Linked DNA regions of Homo sapiens: region 1 is linked to region 2. The links come from fine-mapping of genetic effects on gene expression. A gene starts in region 2. The other region holds a variant in brackets. All regions are shown on one strand. Distances are between the middles of the regions.

Region 1 (2,909 bases), 140 kb after region 2:
GGGAGTTGAAAGATTCTAATACACACACACACCCACACACACACACACACAAAGAGAGAATGAGAATTATTAAGATTAGCACTGGTAGCTGAAGCTATCAGGTCTAACTGAAGCATTTGACTAAGACTGCTTATAGTGCTTACGGCTTTGGGACTAATAAAAATCTGCCTTGCGGGTAAAGATGGGCTGTGAGTTAGCCACTACTCAGAAACCTGGGCCTGTACCTTGTCTGCACCATCAGGGGGCCTTGAAAATACCATCCAATTAAGGTGTATCAAATCCATATCTATAGGCTTTGAGGGTATTTGGGACACATAGGTAGAGAAGACGTCTCTAAATGTTGTCCAGAGAATCCACTTGGTTAAGTGACTCCTGAGTATCCTGCTGGCACATAAGTTCATTTTAAAAAGCCAATATGAGTGCTTTATATGTACCATGAACTTAGCATTCAGTATCTCTAAATCTCTCACCATGACTCCCCACAAAACATGAAACCCTTTTGACACAGATGCACAAAAAGACTCGGAAGGGTTAACTGCTTGAGTTCACCTAGCTTCTCATGGCAGAGCAGGACCCAACTCTACAATGAAGCTTGCCATGCATCAGAACCACTCACCTTCACCTCAAGCAAACATTTCCTCTTTCTCACACCCCATGGGTGTCCTTGACTAACTGCCACCTGTAACTGCACTCATCTTTTGAGATCTTTTTCCAAAGAAAGATGGTTCTGGTAAACACAGCAAGCAGCTACAGCCAACAGCAGCCATGTAAGTGACACCAGCAATCCCCACTATTACTAATACTTGGATGTCTTCTAGTCAGCACCAACATATTTGTTGGCCTTTACACAAACGAAACCCCATTTCCTCCAAGCTAAATAACATCATAGTATAGTAGGCATCAAGGATGATGTGCTTGTTTCTGGAGCTTCCTACCCACAAACCCCATGTTAAGAAAACCTCTTTTCCACTTTACTATTAAAGAGTCAAATAAAAATGATGCTTATTGCTATCCAGCACTTGACATAACTGACTCTCCATCCTTAATTCCCTAATTCATAT[C/T]ACAATGGACAAATACGGGTCAAAATATATAAGAAATGACTAATATAGTGAAAAATAATAGACATGAGGGCTAAAATTCATTGCAAACTCCTTTAAGCAAACGTAAACATCCACGTTAAAAGCATCACTGTATAAAAGCACGTCAAGGAAATAATTATGAGACAATTCTGATAATTTTCTGCCTTTTATTGTTATTTCAGAAAATATTTGATCATTTGTTCCAAAATGTACATTTAAAAAATCCATACAAAACTGTAATTTGTTTTAAAACCAGACAGAAACAGTGGAAAAATGATTTTGAAAAAAAGTTCACCAAAAGCAAAAAGACACCCCTCCCCCCAACCCTTTTTTACATGAAAGCATAAATACGGCAGGTACAAATTTTCCTTGAGTTCCTTGTTGAAATTTGGTCCATATGAACAGGCTAGAGTAGAAAACAGACACTTTGTCCACATTTGCATTATCAGTTGCTCAGGGCACCAGCAGCCTTAGTTCATCCTTCAGATGTTTTTTTAAACAGAGGAACCGAAAAATGAGGTTTACAGTCTCATCACATGAACACTCAAATCTGTACCCAAGGAAACAGCGGTATTATATTTACTGTCACAGCTAGACCCTATCAGGTGAACAGGGCTCTCCACCTGCGGCTGTTGCTTCGCAAAATATCCTTCCTCTCCACGTGAACAAGTAGCTCTAGAGTGCTTTTAGGCAGAGTGACGGTGATGTCATGGGCACCACGCCAATCTTATTCCTGGACAATGACTTAAGCCCCATCGTGAGAATGGTTTTTTCCTCTTCAACACATTTTTTAAAAATAGACCTCTAAGATGATGCTACATGTTCTAAAAGAGTGCCACAGAAACCCACCCAGGATCACAAGAATGACAACAAAAGGAAAGTGGCTATTTCTTGTGTAAGGGATGACGACTCCCCCTCCCATGGGTCCCATTTCTCCCCCAGTTGCAGGTGTTTTAAGGGACAGAAAGGCTGTGGAAAGGACCACTGGCTGGGAGAGTTATTGCACAACCCGGAAGAGTGAGAAAAACGTGGGCGGGCAAGGGGTAGGGGAGAGGGTTGCTGCGACTAAAACAAGGTAACACTGAATTAGGAGCTCGAACAGTTCTGCAACAGTCAGACATGTATGTGTTTATGTGTTAGCACTTGGAGACTGGGAAGTAAAAGTAAACACCTTTATCATATAAACTTTGGGCTGAATGGGAAGCAAAATAGACCAAAAGAGGTTACGGCAAGTGGGCCTTTTAAAAAAAATCTGGGGGTGGGGAAAATAACGGAGAAGGAGTTTGCTATGTGGGGCCAGAGGAGAGTTTTCGAAGTGGGGGCTGGAAGCTCTGGGCTTCTCTTAATAGGTATGCTTGTGGTTGGGCCACCTCACAGACTTCCACAGCCACCCAGCTGGGCCAGAAGAGAACTGACACAAGGGAGAAACCAAAAACAAAACAGAACACACCACAGACCCTAATCCTGGGCAGCGGGGTTAGAAACAAATGGGGTGAAACTGTCACAATCCGTGTCCCTTTTATATATAACTATACTGAGGTATGGTGTCCTTGGCTGCCGTCGAGCCCTGGCAACTGGGGGCTGGCCACGGAGTACAAGTTGAAAACCACACAGCAAAGTAAGGCACTTATTCTCACACACAGGCGCACGCACGCAATCTGCTTGGGACAAAAAGTCTACAGGGGTTGCCAAGCACGAAAGGCTACATGGAGACTGCAAATCCCAATGCTCGTCTTTATAGCTCTGCCACTCCAGGGAACTCCATAAAAGAATGAGGCAGCTTTCACTGGGGAGAACTGGTCTTCAGCCTTTGCAAGGTGGAGCTAACAC
Region 2 (2,909 bases):
TAGTATCCACCTATAAGTAAGTGCTGGACTATGATTCCCTGGGGAGATCAGTGGCTCTAAAGACAGGCCCCTGGGCTCTTTCCTGGCTCTGACTCAGCTTCAAACCTGCCGTGCAACTGCTCAGAGTCTAAATGTCTTCATTTATGGAACTGAAATAATCCTGCTAAGATTACTTTCTTTGCTTCGTGATGTTTGCCTGAGAATAAGTAGCTGGGACTACAGGCGTGTGCCACCACGCCCATCTAATTTTTGTATTTTTTGCAGAGACAGGGTCTCACCTTGTTACCCAGGCTGGTCTCGAACTCCTGGGCTTAAGCAATCTGCCCACTTTGGCTTCCCAAAGTTCTGGGATTACAGGTGTGAACCATCACACTCGGCTAAAATGTTTTGAAAAATGGAAACATTGTACAAATGTGAGATGTTGTGCAACATGTCACTGAAACACGGTGGTATAAGAGAAGTTTTGGGAACCAGCAGACCAGAATTAGGCCTGAGAAAATCTTACAGTAAGCAGACCAGAATTAGGCCGTCTGAGAAAATCTTACAGTAAGCAGACCAGAATTAGGCCTGTCTGACAAAATCTTACAGTAAGCAGGCCATCTTCCCAGGCCTTCTCTTTTCTCCAGATAATGAAGAAGGCTTTTTAAAAGCAAAGCCAACTTGATTTGTTAATTGATCATCCAACTTCTTAACTGTCTTTTTCTCATGGTAAAATACCGAGAACATTGTGGGTGAGGAGCAAGTCGGGAGGTGGAACCCACCCCCGCACCCTGCCTCCAATAGATTGTATGTGTGGGTCGCTATTGCTGGGACCCACGAAGGCTGTGGATTGAGGACACAGGGTAGAAGTGGGATCTTCTGCAGGTCAGTGTCAGATGTGTCTGTGTGATGTAGTCATGGGAGAGGCGCGAGTCTTGGGCGGGTGTATCTTAGGGGTGTGGAAGTGTCTGCAAGGGCCTCCGTGGTATGTCATCACATTATTTATATCATGGGCATGACCCTGAACGTTCACCCGAGAGTGGTGAGAGAAAGGCCAGGATTTAAATCAGTCTTGACAGCGCAGATGAAGTTTGTTATTGTTTTCCGCCCTTCCCGAGGGACTTCGGAAATGGCCCCCTGAGAGGTGAATTCTTGGAAAGAATATGAGGGCGGTTAAGGCGTCTCTGTCTCAAACTCTCCGGATTTTTTGCAGCTACCAGGGACTGCGAGGGTCTGCGTCCTGGGTGGAAGGAAGCGGCGTCAGTCAACTTCCTCGCAGCGGCGGCAGCGGCGCGGGCTGCAGCGGAGCGCGCGGGTCTGCGCATCCCGCCCCCGGGTCGGGAAGGGGCGGAGCTGGGCGTCACCCGCCCCCGGCGGTCTCCTCCTCCCGGCCGCTCCCCCGAGCCGAGCCCGCCGCGGTCACAGCCACCCGCGGGAAGCTCGTGGCCGGGACCCCGAGGCGGGAGCGCGGGCTGGGCCGGGCTGGGCTACGCGCACGGGCTCGGCCGCCGCCCCTGCCGGTGAGTCCCGCCGCGGGAGGCGCGGAACGGGTCGAGTTGGGTATTGGGACCGCGAGGTCGGGGAGCCCCGGGGCCCGAGCTCGGGAGGCGGGGACGTCAGGATCGCGGCGTTGGGGAGTCCTCGCACCCCGAGCTCAGAGGGGAGGTCCAGAGTCGCAGCGTTGGGAACCTGAGGCCAGGGGCCGGAGTTTAGGGCCCCGATGTTGAGTCTCCGAATCCAAGCCCGGAAGGGGGGACGACGGGTTAGGATGCTGGGGAGCCCTGGAGCTCTGAACGGCTGTAGTGGGGTGGCCAGGACTGCGATGCTGGGGAGTCATGGAGCCTGAGCCTGGAGAGCTGGCGGGGGTGTGGGGACCGCGATGTTGGGAAGGCTGAGCCCGGAGGGCGGGAGATTCAGGACCAAGACGTGGGGGAGTCCGACAGGGCAGAACGAGGGGCGTCCTGTCCGCATTTGTGGGGCGCCCTCCGCAGGGCGGAGGGGAACGGAACCTGGGAGGGGAGTGCGGAGGAGAGGAAGCCCGGGGCGGTAGGGAGAGCCCGAGGAAGGGCAGCCCGAGGTAGGGGAACCCCGGAAAGAGTAGGGTGGGTCTAGGCATGTGCTTTCGCCGGGGAAAGATGGAGGGGGCTTCTCTGAGAGGGTGGGCGCGAGGAGCGGAGTTGTGATGGGAACCGCCGGCAGCTGGCTAATGGGCGGATGCTGGGGCTTGGCTGGATGGGAACGCCGCGGTGGGGTGTCGGAGGTGGCTGGTGGGGCTGGAACGCTGGGAACGTCTGTCTAGGCTATGAGAACGCAGCGCCCTCGGTGGAACAGGGTCGTAGATAACTCGAGAGGGAATCTAGTCTAGGGAGCAAGACCGGGCATCCCCAGACGGAGGCGGGTGGGGACCTCGCACTCAGCGCGCTTGGGGAATATTCGGAGCCTGGGTTTGGGGGCTGCTGCACCTTGCCGACCCGGTGCGGGGACCTGGAGGTAGCCGGGCACAGCAGCTTCCTGTGCAGCTGTGGGTGCTCCAGGCACTGGCAGACTAGTGGGAAGTCCAGGAGCCTTGGCAGGCTCATTGTCTTGACCTAAGTTGCATTCCATATTTCTTAGCTGGGTTAGAAATGATTTTGTCCAGGAACCCAATGAGAAGAGCCTGGGCTAAAAAAATTAGTTATGGAGTGAGATTTCAAATGTACAGGTAATACCTACCCGTGTGTGTGCGCGCCTTAGGGATAACTCATACAATACACTGTATGTGTGATTTTTAGACCCACGTGTGTACTACTTGTTCCAGTACTCTGAGAAGCTGTTTCTGGGTAAAAACGAGGAAAATCCACAACAAATACACACACCAAACAATGTCCACAAACGCACTGCATTCCAGTCGAGTTAAACATGAGAGTATTGTACAGTTTGGGAGTATTTGC

Evidence for each region. PIP is the estimated chance that this variant, and not a neighbour inherited with it, causes the effect. A credible set is the group of variants that fine-mapping cannot tell apart.
Region 1: its variant is the best candidate, but not a certain one, in a credible set for the expression of PAQR8 in putamen (GTEx, PIP 0.64).

The regions. Positions count from the first base shown.
Region 1 is chr6:52,496,176-52,499,084 of GRCh38, forward strand. EFHC1 (EF-hand domain containing 1) reads left to right here. Exons shown (of 11, transcript NM_018100.4): 11 at 1-1,023. It overlaps TRAM2 (translocation associated membrane protein 2), which reads right to left. Exons shown (of 11, transcript NM_012288.4): 11 at 1,233-2,909. Among named protein-coding and RNA genes, the nearest start is that of EFHC1, 77 kb to the left of the region's middle. RefSeq lists a silencer at 1,639-1,840. The variant C/T (reference allele first, on the strand shown) is at 1,062.
Region 2 is chr6:52,360,751-52,363,659 of GRCh38, forward strand. It overlaps PAQR8 (progestin and adipoQ receptor family member 8), which reads left to right and starts at 1,401. Exons shown (of 2, transcript NM_133367.5): 1 at 1,401-1,499. RefSeq lists silencers at 805-990, 1,164-1,653.